Homo sapiens: one gene and its partner. The protein of the gene in region 1 purifies or fractionates together with the protein of each later gene. This does not show direct contact. Each region holds a gene or a part of one and is shown on either strand. Other genes may lie near its edges.

Region 1 (3,500 bases):
ACAGATAAAGAGGAAGCATACTTGAAGAATTATAGTTAAAGATTGTATGGATACCTAAGGGGCCTCACCCACACCTGGATCAAATTTGGATGGCATCTAGATTTTGAGGTGATGACCGCCTATACAGTAAAAAAAATTATTTTTCATATTTTAATAAAAGTGATGTTTGACATCAATACAATTTAACTTGTTTTATAGCATCCAAACCTCTAAATAAAATATAAAATAATTTAAAACATTTTCTGTCTGTTAAAAGATTGAGCTACTAATGCAGAAGGGCAAGCATCATAGATTTCTAATATTAATATTATTTATTAATAAATCTCACTAATATAAAACTTGATAAACTTCTCTAAACCAAATTAATCAATTATCAACTGCCAAATTTTAATCTGTTTATAATATTTATTTGACAGCATCATAGCTATTATCAAGAGAACACATAAGCAATGTCAAAGCTGTCCTAAATATCTTGATTTGCAGATTATTTTTTCTGTTTGTAACAAAGATTCCAATTAAAGGAGGCATTTTAAATGAGATGTGAACTGGAAAATGAAATGTCTGACTCTCCTAAAATGATTATAATTTTTTTAACTTCATGCACTCCCAAAGAAAAGCAAATAATATCATTTCAATGTTCTATAATGCCTATCCTTCAGAATGACAGCACATCTTAATTTTCTATTCACTATCATATTGTGACATTTTATGTATGAAAAATAGTTAAAGCAGTATTTTTTAAAATGTCATACGGCTATAGAGAGCAATTTATTTCATGCCCATGTCCCTCCGGGCTATGAGCCTATTTAGTAAAGCTTATCAGTGAAGGACAATGACTGACATGTCTTCTGCATATGCACTCATGGGCCAATAAAAACAAAGAACACAAATATACCATTCAGAAATACACAGCACTGTTTAAAAATAGCAATGCCCATTTCTTCTCACAGAGAAGAGGGTCCTAGTCTACAGAGACAGCACAGAGCAGTGAAGGGGTATTATCTTGTACTGAGAGTCAGAGTATGTGGGCTCTCAGCTTAGCTTAAGCTACCTGGTAAGTGACTTATCCACCTTAGAATTCAGTTAACTAACTGTAAAATTCAGTGTCTGTATCCAACTTGATCAGTCAATGCATTCCTAAACTTCAGACATGCAGGCACCCCTCAGGCGAGTTCTTACTACACTCATGCAAAACCTGTACAGTTTTTTTGAATCCACCAAATAATCACTTAAATAAGTTTATTTTTCCTTAAAATAAACTTTAAACAGGAAACTTTTACACCACTACTTTATAAATGAAAAATCTGATTTACATAGCATTAATGATTGGTAATAGATTTAATTTTAAAATTAAATACAATAATACAACAAAACAATTATCAAATTCTAGCTATCAAGTTGTTGGCTGCCTAACGTCTATTCTCTTTGGAAAAACAGAGAAGCAACTCTCTAGGAGAGAGATTCTAGCATCAGACTGAGAATTTCTCCATTACTTGTCAGGAAAGCATTGAAAGGAAATAAGTTTTTCATTATATGATTCACTGTCATTTCAGGCAACATCTACATGCCACATAAAATCAACTCTAGTATCAACCAAAATCATCTTTCATACCAGCAGCAAATTTCTTGTACCCTGGAAATGCTGCATCAAATAGTACACCCGTTATTTCTGATTCTAAATTTTATCATGAATCCCCATATGACCCACCTAACCTACTTTCTTAAAACCATTAATACTGTCATGAGAGACACTAAAATAATTTTGAGGGCAATGATGCACTATGGAAAAAGTTACATTAGGTTTCTAAGCTTAGTTTCATCAGGCTAGATCTTGACACTGGCAAGTTAATTAACCTCTCTAAGCCTCAGATTGCTCATTCAGATTAAAGTGCTAGTGTCACAGTTAAATGACATAATGCATGTAATAAGCTTAGCATTGAACCCGAACATGGTAGGTACTCAATAAATGTTATGGATTAAAAATAATTTAATTTTCTCAAATAAGTTTTCAAAATTCTACTAAAATTCACTCCAAAGAACACTGGCTAAAAAGAAAATATAGTTTATCATTTTTCTTTTATAATAAAGCTATATGATATATAACTTTCACTTCAAAATAAAGCTATAAAACCCATAAACCATCTACTGGCAAAAGTAGCAAAACCACTTTGTCCTTAATGATAAAAGAAGAACCATTGGCTGTCAAAATGAAAAACAACAACTCTTAGTTGCTATCATGTAAAGCATTTTCAGGTTTTTTCCACCCCAAGAACGGCTCAAAAGGGTAGAAAAGACAGAGTGAGAATATCTTAATCAAAAAGTTTCAGCCAAGTAGGGCACATAGTGAAAGGAGCCACTTTTAGGCCAGCACTAATAACACTCTTACCTACTAGATGTAGTAAAGGCTGGGCAAAATAAAAAGAAGCCCAATGTTAATTCAACAACAGTAGTTCTGGTCACCTAATAAATGGTAGTAGTAATATTCTCCAGGACTCATACTCGTCACTTCAGATGCACTATTTCTAATCCATACAAGTTTGCAAGTTAGACATTGCTAACCCAAATTAAAACACGAAGAGGCTGAAGTTCAGAGAGGTTATTTGCCTGCTCAAGGTCACCCTGCTGGTAAATGCCTGAGTTGCACTGAAACCACATCTGATGCCCCAACCAGCTCTCCAGTCACCATTTCCTGCTGCTTTTCTTTTAGGACATAAAGATGTGAACAAAACTCTTCCTCAGTACTTTGAAAAGTCACCAGGTGATATGTGTCCCCTTTTCTTTCCCTGCCCTCTTCTGGTTTCTCTCCAATCCTTTGCTTTTTGATTCACACCATATTTAGTCAGTATTCATTTCCCCAACTCCAATTCACTTATTCCTTCAGCCACAGTAATGTGGTATTGTACCCCAGCCCTTTTGGAAACTGTCCTTCCTAAGAAAAGAAAGAATAAAAAGAAATCAAGGCAAGGCTTCCAATCTACTTGGAACTTAAACTAAAGGCTCCCAGATAACAAGTAATTCTCTTACACAGCAACCAATTATTTACCTGGACACCAGTACTCTCATTAGAGTTGGCATGTTACATATTAGAGGGATGACTAAGGTGGGCACAACGTGTGAAATCGATTATAGATTATGTGCAAATCATACATATTCAAAAGAATGCTTCACTGAATTAGAGCTTCAAAAGGTATTTGGAAGCTTTTATCTTTTATTCAGGGAAGGAATTTACACACAAATAAAAATTACTGAACTTAAGAGTATTTTTGTTCCATATTCTAAATGGTACAGGATCAAGCAAAAATGATAGTCTCTTCATTTAACTCTAAGTTGTACTTCAGTGAAGATGTCCATTTAATAGACAATGTCTAGTTCATGTTTTAAGTTCTAACGCTGCACTTGAAAATTAGTACACCTACCACACATTGCCCACACTTGTGGTCTAAATTGCTGAGGTCTATGAACCACTCTGTTGTATATGTTTCCTCAATCATCCAAAATGC
Region 2 (3,500 bases), on another chromosome or scaffold:
CTACAGAAGCGAAGGGAAGATGATTCTTTGTGTAGGCATAGGAAACAGAGCAGACTTCTACAATGGAAAAGGAGAGAGAACTAAAGGAAAGGACTCTTCCCAGAGTAAAACACACTGGAAAACTCAGTGTGCTTCCACAGAGCATACTTAGCTTTCCCATGCAAGGGAGAGGCCTATTAGAGAAACAGAAATTTACTACTTTGGAAGAAACCAAAACCCAGACCTATACTAGTCAACCTAATCCTTCATTCATAAATAAGAATGGAGAATTAATGGTCACCAGACATTTGCATGAAACCAATGACAGAAAAGGACCAAGATGAACAAATAGAATGGACTCTAGAATAGGGAAGTAGAAGCTAATTAAAACAAAAAGGAAAGCAACTTTTAAACAATTCCAATGTGGAGTTATATGTATAATAGAAGCTCTTTGTCTGGATTCCCAGCTCCCTTCATCTCTCTGTAAAACACGCTAATGAAAACTCGTGGCTGCTTCCGTCCCACTAGGTGCCTATTCTCTGGATGCCCTCCTCTCCTCCCCCAGTTGAAGTGTATGCTTAGGAGGAGTCAGTGAGGGTCATTTCCAAACCTGTGTAGGCCAGTTGCACTTGTTACAATAGTTACATAATTCGACTAAAGAGTGTAAAAACCCTTGAAATAAGGGCACAAAGAGAGAGTTGTTTTTATGGAAATGAAGTTGAATGCAGCTACTGCCCCCAAGTCTGAGTGTTGGTTCATCTCCTCCATCAATTTCTTGAAGTCCACAAGCTATAAACTAACAGAGAAGTTATCTCCTCCCTATCCACCAAGTTTCCTACCCAAACCAGCATATAGCAGTGGAGGAAGAATATGATGAGAGCAGTAGAGCTCCCATTTGGAAAAGGAAGAAGGGGAAGGGCCCGCAGCTCTGCTCTGCAGCAGTGGTGGAACCCTGCAGGGTGGGACCGGTGAGACGCCTTCTTGGCATGAAGTAAGCTCCTTGGTTTGAACCTGTTGCTGCCCTCAGAAAGAGACTCCTGTGTGCTCTGGCCTCGTCCCCTGGGAGCTTCTGCCTTGGTGGTAATGCTCTGTGGCCATATCTGAAGTGGACATTAGAAAATACGCCCTCCCTGGTGGCTGCACAGCTTGTGCCACTCACTTCCTGCTTGTGTGAGCAGCTTTAGGGCTAAACAATTGCAAACTTGGAGGGCGGCTTCTTACCTGCCTCCTGCCACTGCCTATGTTTGCAGTGAGATTTCAGAAATGTGTAGGCTTCTGGCTGTTCGCATCTAATCAAGTTCATGTGAAAGTGACCCCAGTCGAGGGTCTCATCCTGTTGTATTTGTAAAATCTTCGGAATTTTGCTGATTTTCTGGTGCTTTCTTTCATGCTCTCAATTTAATGGTAGTTATTTTTTACCAAATGCTCTGCTCTGGCACAATAAGGTTTGCCACCTTTCCAGCCTGCGGGATCCTTATCTATTTCCTTACTGCCCGCCATTTTCCCACTGCCCAAATGTTTGGCTGTTCCCTCATTTTGATTTTTTTTGCAACCATAAAACACTCCAGCCGGGCGTGGTGGCTCATGCCTGTAATCCAGCACTTTGGGAGGCCGAGGCAGGTGGATCACGAGGTCAGGAGATCGAGACCATCCTGGCTAACATGGTGAAACCCCGTCTCTACTAAAAATAAAAATAAAAAAATCAGGCGTGTGTAGTGGCACGTGCCTGTAGTCCCAGCTACTTGGGAGGGCAAGACAGGAGAATCGCCTGAACCCGGGAGGCGGAGCTTGCAGTGAGCCGAGATCACGCCAGTGCACTCCAGCTTGGGCAACAGAGCGAGACACCGTCTCAAAAAAAAAAAACAAGAACACTCCAGTGTCAGCTAACAAATTGTGTATTAGTCAGAGTATAGGCTAAGCTACCAAATAAAAACAAAACCTGCAAATACAATGGCTGAGATGAGGGAGAAGCCTCCTTCTCTCTCTGAGAACAGTCCTGGCATGCAGGCCGTGTGGCGTAGTGGGCAGTACTGCCTCATAGGATAGTCCAGCCATGACTTTTGTCTTGTCACTGTGCTGTCCCCTGGGCATTGTTCTGGTCCATGTGGGCAGTGTGTGTGTGTGTGTGTGTGTGTGTCACTGTGCTGTCCCCTGGGCATTGTTCTGGTCCATGTGGGCTGTGTGTGTGTGTGTGTGTGTGTGTGTGTGTGTGCAGTGTGTGTGTGTGTGTCTGTGCACATGCCCAGGCCTGGGAAGGTGGAGGGCAAGCAGTTCCCTTTTCAGGAAATGGGGTGGAGTTGAATGAGTCCCCTTTTCTTTCGCACATTAGGAACTTTATCACGTGGCTACATTTGAGGGCAGAGATGAGGCTCCAGCAGGGGGAGTGGATTCTGCTGAAATCTGGGTTGGGAAAGCCATTCTAGTACTAAAGGAAGAAATGGATAATAGAAACCAGGGACAGTGCTTTCTGTTGCACACTTAAAACAAAATGGTACAGAAAGGTTGAAAAATAAATAGATGGACAAAGCTGTCTTGAGAAGATGCAACGAAAACCAGAAGTGACAATATTAATAGTGTGGAATTCCACGTGCAAAAGTTTGCAAGAAGGATGTTTAATATTGATAAGAGGTTCAACTCCATACTCTCCACTAAGACGACTGAACAGTTCCAAAACTTTATGTACAAAACAGCATGACATTTATATATTTTAAGCAAAACCCGTTAGAAGTAAAAAATACCATCACTTTAGAGCACGATTTAAACACCCCTCTCAGAAATTCACAGATCAAATAGACAAAAACTAGAAAGGATAAGAATTGAATAGTGCAGTTAATAAATTTAGAGTATGTATGTGTGTGTATACATGTGGGGGCACAAAACTTTGTAACTGACAGTGTACTCACTCTTTTTCAAATCTCTGTAGAGCATTTATTTATAAAAGTTGATGTAAAAGACATTTTTTTCTAAAATTAATCTATAAATTCAGTTTCTATCACAGTTAAAAGTCCCAGTGAATTTTTTTGTGGAACTAAGCAAGCTAGTCTTAAAGCATACTTAGAACACGTTCAAAAATAACCAAGACAAGTTTGGGGATGGGGAAGAGTAGTAGGGAGAGCACCTTCCCAGATCTCAGAACAGTGGAAAAACCACAGGAATCAAAGTGGCACAGTACTGGACAGAGACAGACAAATGTGTGGGCTCTGCTAGGGCCAGAAGCAGACATAGATATTGGTTCTGCATGGAATTTAGTATAGGATAAAGGAGGGAGGGGAAGAGGCTTCAAAACCTGTCTCTATGCATTGTTTGGGAAGTAGGAGTTAGAGCCCTATTTCACACTATATACAGAGCTTAAAGCCAGGTATATAAAGTATCTAAATGTAAAAAAGATTAAAAAGTGCTATAAAGAAATAGAGGAGAATATTGATATAATTTTGGCTTTCCTCAGCAAGCAAAACCCAAAGCCGTAAAGAAAAGGATTTAAGGTTTTACTACGTTAAATTTAAAGTTTCCATAGGACAAAT

The links.
Region 2: the proteins of GOLIM4 (region 1) and PACC1 purify together in Homo sapiens (co-immunoprecipitation; one large-scale study listed by IntAct). This does not show direct contact.

The regions. Positions count from the first base shown.
Region 1 is NC_000003.12:168,085,925-168,089,424, forward strand, and holds part of GOLIM4 (Golgi integral membrane protein 4), read right to left. Parts: intron 1-3,500. UniProt on the Homo sapiens protein: Plays a role in endosome to Golgi protein trafficking; mediates protein transport along the late endosome-bypass pathway from the early endosome to the Golgi.
Region 2 is NC_000001.11:212,380,387-212,383,886, reverse strand, and holds part of PACC1 (proton-activated chloride channel), read left to right. Parts: intron 1-3,500. UniProt on the Homo sapiens protein: Chloride channel gated by pH that facilitates the entry of chloride ions into cells upon exposure to extracellular acidic pH. Involved in acidosis-induced cell death by mediating chloride influx and subsequent cell swelling.